Linked DNA regions of Homo sapiens: region 1 is linked to region 2. Evidence: fine-mapped expression QTL. A gene starts in region 2. The other region holds a variant in brackets. All regions are shown on one strand. Distances are from middle to middle.

The links.
Region 1: its variant is fine-mapped to the expression of ADORA2B in monocytes (Quach 2016, PIP 0.94).

Annotation. Positions count from the first base shown.
Region 1 is chr17:15,910,916-15,913,816 of GRCh38, forward strand. It overlaps a transcript of ADORA2B not described here. Among named protein-coding and RNA genes, the nearest start is that of ADORA2B, 33 kb to the right of the region's middle. The variant T/TA (reference allele first, on the strand shown) is at 1,469.
Region 2 is chr17:15,943,455-15,946,355 of GRCh38, forward strand. ADORA2B (adenosine A2b receptor) reads left to right here and starts at 1,676. Exons shown (of 2, transcript NM_000676.4): 1 at 1,676-2,129. The coding sequence starts at 1,795. RefSeq lists a silencer at 1,232-1,851 and an enhancer at 1,679-2,493.

The DNA of each region.
Region 1 (2,901 bases), 33 kb before region 2:
CAGCTGCAGCTCTGTATCAGAATCTTCAGGGCACCGTTTTGAAAACTGGTTACCCCAGTTGGTTGACTCAGAATGTCTGGAATGGGACCAGAGATGCAGTCTACATGTTTTGAAAGTTCTCTAGACGACTCCAATGCACAGCTGCATGGAGAACCACTAAGTGGGGCAGGGATCTCCCTGGTGGCCCCAGGGCAGGCAGCCTGTGGGAGCTCCTGAGCAACTGCTTGGCGATGGTCATTATATCACCCGCGCCTTTGTTTTTAAGTGAAACTTGAGGCACCGTCAGAACCAATTCAACCCGAGAGTTATTACTTGTGCTGCTTCACGCAACTGTCTTTTGTTGACATAATCGATGCATTTTTCTTTCTCCTTGTGCTTCTACTTTGCCTGCTATTAAAGTGGGGGAAAGTAATATCCCAAGTGGTTGAGTTGTTGGTTGTTGGGTTTAAGCTGAAATTACTCCAGGGGTTTATGTGGGGAGGCAGTTGTGGTCTTGGGATACCCGGAGTCAGTGTTTACTGTGATTGGCTCTGAGTGATTACATGTAAATGATCTAGAACCAGCTCTGCTCAAAGCAGTTTCTATGCTGGATGGTGTTGTGGTTTCCCTCCTTCCACACTGGAGCCATACCAGCCCCTCTCCAGTGGGAGCCCAAGTTGCTGATTACTTTAGCCAAACTCAGCCATTCTGGTCTCTATCCTGATCCCTTTAGGCTAACAAGAAGGAAAGAAACATCACATGAAAGAAGGGCCATGTGCAACTTATTTTTATAACTCAAGGAGGTTCCCTGACTGCCATTTTACTTGCCAATAGACATGCACGTAGAAGAGAAATGGCATGTCCTGTCCATAGAAATAACACGTGGTGGGTGGGCATGGTGGTTCATGCCTGTAATGGCAGCATTTTGGGAGGCCGAGGCAGGAGGACTGCTTCAGCCCAGGAGTTCAAGATCAGCCTGGGCAACATGGCAAGACCCTATCTCTGCAAGAAAATTTTTTTAAAAATTAGCCAGGCCAGCTGAGTGTGATGGCTCACACCTATAATCTCAGCACTTTGGGAGGCCAACGCGGGTGGATCACCTGAGGTCAGAAGTTTGAGACCAGCCAGGCCAACATGGCAAAACCCCATCTCTACTAAAAGTACAAAAATTAGCTGGGTGTGGTGGCAGGGGCCTGTGATTCCCAGCTACTCAGGAGGCTGAGGCAGGGAGAATCGCTTGAACCTGGGAGGTGGAGGTTGCAGTGAGCCGAGATTGCACCATTGCACTCCAGCCTGGGTGACAGAATAAGACTCTGTCTCAAAAAAAAAAAAAAAAAAGCCAGGCCCTGGTGGCACATGCTTGTAGTCCTAGCTACTTGGGAGGCTGAGATGGGAGGATTGCTGGAACCCAGGAGGTTGAGGCTGCAGTGAGCTATGATTGCACCACTGCACTCCCACTTGGGTGACAGAGGGAGACCCTGTATCAAAT[T/TA]AAAAAAAAAAATGCAGGTGGTGTTTCAGGGCAATGAGGCTGCCTGTCCTGAAGTGTTCACTTTTTCCTCCCAGGGAAGCCACACTATCCCAGCCTTTTTCTCCCTAGGGCCTCTGCATCTTCTCAGACAGCACAGGCTCGGATAAGGGATCATCACTTATCACCTAGCCAGGATAGCAGCCACGGCTCACTTCCCTCTTGGGCTGTCAGGTGACAAGAGAAGCTGTGTCCAGGAGATACCACGTCTCGTTTGCCCAACATCTGATCACCTGCAGCTGTCTTCAGCTGCTCAGTGGTTCACACATGCATATGCAGGCATATGTGAACACATGCACACAAACACGCACGCACACATGGGCATTTTATGGAGGGCCAATGACTTAGCACTTGGGACGATCTCTTCCGTATTTGCCACTGTTTGGGCCCCATTAGGGAGGTTCCCATCCTGTGGCCTAGACTGCTACAAGAATGAAGCATCATCTGTGGACATTTCGAGCCTGGGCTGTCTGAGCACACACACTTTACAGGTACCTGGCTTCAGGCCACTTAGTTGCACTGAAGCCCCAGGGCTTATTCCTGCGCCTCTGTAGCCTAGATTCGTCAGATGGTGATGGAGAGAAAACACTCACCCTAGAAAGTGGTCGTATTAAATGAGGTGTCAGGTGAGAGGCTCCCAACGTGCCCCCTGAGGCATCTGTTGTTGCACTGTCTGTGGCAATGGTCTCTGCTGCCCAGAAGCCCATGGCACTTGCCCACCCTGTGTCCCTTGGCCCACAGCTGGCTCTTCCTTCCCTGAGCCAGAAGGGCTTGGATTCTTAGGCTGTGCATTTACACCCTGCACTCTGAGCTCCTTGGAAGCAGAGCTGTGTATTTACTGACTCAAAATGCTACAGCCTAATGTGTAACAGTTGCTAAATAGATAATTTTTGATTAATTAGTGGAAATATCCAGCTCCCACTGATGGTCATTCTGACTTGGAATTCTTCACTGAACTCAAGGAATAAACACCTCCGCATCCAGCCTGGTTTCAGAGCTGCAGTCAGTCTTGTCAACAGTTGTTTCCAGCTTTTCCAGCTTGATGGTGAAAATCCCAGAATTGCAAACAAGAAGGACCCCTGGAGGGAAACTCAAAACCTGGCCATTCTAAGACCTTTGTCATTTTTCCTTCTTTCTCTGCTACTATCACTTATGGTATCATGAATGGACACAATACATTTCCAAGCAGAATCTCTGAACCTTCCAAACTCATTAAATTCATACATTGTAACTTGACTCACCTGCCTTATTAAAACCTTACCAACATTTTTCTAGATTATGAAAAATATGCTATAAAAAAATTTGGCCTGGACATCTTGCAGTGTTGGCCAAAGGGCCGGTCCCGTCACCCCTCCCATATGTCCATCTGGGTTACTATTTATATCACCCTTTAAACC
Region 2 (2,901 bases):
TAGCTGGGACTACAGGCACCTGCCACCGTGCCTGGCTGATTTATTTTTTATTTGTTTGTTTAGAGATGGGGTCTCCCTACATTGGCCAGGCTGGTCTTGAACTCCTGGCCTCAAATGTTCCTCCTGTCTTGGCCTCCCAAAGTTTTGGGATTATAGGCGTGAGCCATGTTGTCGTCATTACAGCTACATTGAGATATAATTTATGTGCCACACAATGCATGCCTTTCAAGTGTACAGTTCAGTGGCATTGAGGTATATCCACAGAACCGTACAACCATCACCACATTGAGAAAATTTTTATCACCCTAAAAAATCCTTTACAAAATCCTTTACCCTTTAGCAGTCACCCCATGTTTTGATTTTTGCTTTACATGATTTTACAAGCATCTTTTCCTGTTGCTGGAAAATCTCCTTACCCATCCTCTTTGGTGACTGTCAGCAAAGGCTTTCGGGTGGTGAAATAGCGTGGCCAGGAGTGCTCTAGAACAATGGTGTTGGTGAGGGCTGCAGAAGCTGAGGACCCACAGGCAGAGAGGGAGGGATGGTAGAAGCAGGTGGTGAGGAGGGACTCGGGGCAGGACTTTGGGGGTAAAAGGAAGCAAGTCTCTGGAAGCAGAACCAGCAGCACTGCTGATCATTGGGACGTGGAGAAAGGCGAAGGCTCAGGGTGTCAGCAAACTTCCTAGGGTGGGTGAGGGTTGCCAGGTCAATAACGAACAGGGTCCCAGGAAAAGGCGGCAGCACAGGTTTGGGGAGAATTAGAGATGAGCTTGGTTTTGGTCTTGTTGGATTTGGGGGCACCAGTCTCTCTCCTGGCGAGAGTCGGCAGTGGGGTGTTAGGATCTGGCCCTCAGGAGGCTGTTAGGGCTGAAGCAAGAGATTTGGGAGTTAAGGGTGTGAGGGCCACGTGGGAGGCCTCGGGAGCCTGTGCCGATCCAGGGTGAGTGTGAAGGAAAGAAAAAAGAGGGCCCGGGGAACACTGGTATTTTCGGGCGGTGGACGAGGATGGGACGGCCACGAGCTTGTCTTAAGGTAGAAGGCAGAGCGGGGCCGTAGGGGCAGTGGCGCGGGCGAGGGTGGAGAACAGCGCTGAGCCTCGCTGGGAGGCGGCCGGAGGGGGCTGCAGCCCCCGAGGGCTCCTTGCAGTCCGGCCCCGCAGCCTGGAGACAGCTCCGGTGGTGCTGCGCTGCCCGAGACTGCTGCACGAGCGGGGACTGCGGCCTCGGCTCCCTGCCTGCCCGGCAGCCCCCCATCCAGTCGGCCTGCCCGGGGTGCGCAGGGTTAGCCTGGAGTGAGCTCGCCCCGCCCGGGGTTGCGCGGCCCTGGGGGGTCCTCTCGCGGCGGCTCCTGGGACCTGCTGGCGCCCCGGGCAGAGCCCGGCCCCATCCCAGGAGTCGCCCGGACTGGAAGGCAGTGCGAGCACTGGGACACAGCCTCCGAGCTCGAGCGTGACGGGAAGTTGGGGCAATTTGTTAGTTATCCGCCGCCACCAAGACGCGGCACGGCGCCTGGACCGGAGGGGCCCCGCGCGGGCGCGAACTTTGGGCTCGGGCGAGTGGGTGGTGCTCCGCCCAGCCCGAGACGGGCGGGCGCGCGGGCCAATGGGTGCCGCCTCTTGGCCGCGGGGGGCCCCGACCCGTGGGTCCCGGCCACCAGCGCCCCAGCCCCGAGGCTCAGAAGCGGCAGGCGGAGGCGCGGTCCGGGCGCTATGGCCATGCCCGGCGGGTCTCACGCGGCTGCCCCTCGCCCGGCGCGCCTTCGGTAGGGGGCGCCCGGGGCCCAGCTGGCCCGGCCATGCTGCTGGAGACACAGGACGCGCTGTACGTGGCGCTGGAGCTGGTCATCGCCGCGCTTTCGGTGGCGGGCAACGTGCTGGTGTGCGCCGCGGTGGGCACGGCGAACACTCTGCAGACGCCCACCAACTACTTCCTGGTGTCCCTGGCTGCGGCCGACGTGGCCGTGGGGCTCTTCGCCATCCCCTTTGCCATCACCATCAGCCTGGGCTTCTGCACTGACTTCTACGGCTGCCTCTTCCTCGCCTGCTTCGTGCTGGTGCTCACGCAGAGCTCCATCTTCAGCCTTCTGGCCGTGGCAGTCGACAGATACCTGGCCATCTGTGTCCCGCTCAGGTGAGGCGCTCGGCGTCGCCCGAACTCGGGGCCCCGTCGGAGCTCCGAAATGGGTCGTCTTCTCCAGGCCGGGGTTCCTCCCTCGGGGGCCCCAGACGGGCCAGGCTGGGGGCGCGCGGGGCGCTTGGAGGGCTGGTTCCCAGCCTGGCCACCCCGCAACGCTAGACCAGTGCGCCCGGGCACCCAAGACATCCCAGATGCGCGTCGCTCTAAGGAGATCTGCGTAGGGACAGCTCTAGGGGGTCCGGGGAGTGCGGTCCCCGGCGCCCGGGGAGGCGCCGTGGAAACCCCGGGGAAAGCGTCACCCCCGGGGAAAGCGTCACCCCCGTGGGCGGGTGGAGCCCGGGGCGCGGGAGTTTTGGTGATCACATCTCCACTCCTGCCACGAAGGCCGTTCCTAACACTCGCCCGCAGCGGCGGTGCAGCGGCAGTCCCGTGAGTGCTGCGGCTCCCGGAGGCCCGGGAGGTTCCCACTAAGGGCAAGGCAACTTTGGACGCTGGGCATTCGCACCGTCAGAATGGACACGCATGAGCCAGCTTCAGAACGTGTCTGCTGCGGAGAGGCGGCCCGGCCCATCCCAGGGGAAGGTGTCCGTTAACTTTGGGGAACGCTACGGACTCAGATTATATACTTTTAAAAGGAGTTACAATGCTTCCTCGTGTCTGGCAAACGGCCTTACAGCCTCACTGCCCTTGTGTAACTATTTATCTCCTGCTGCCCTGTTGGGAGCGGGCTGAGAAGTGCAGAAAATGGTGGCGAACTTACTTGTCC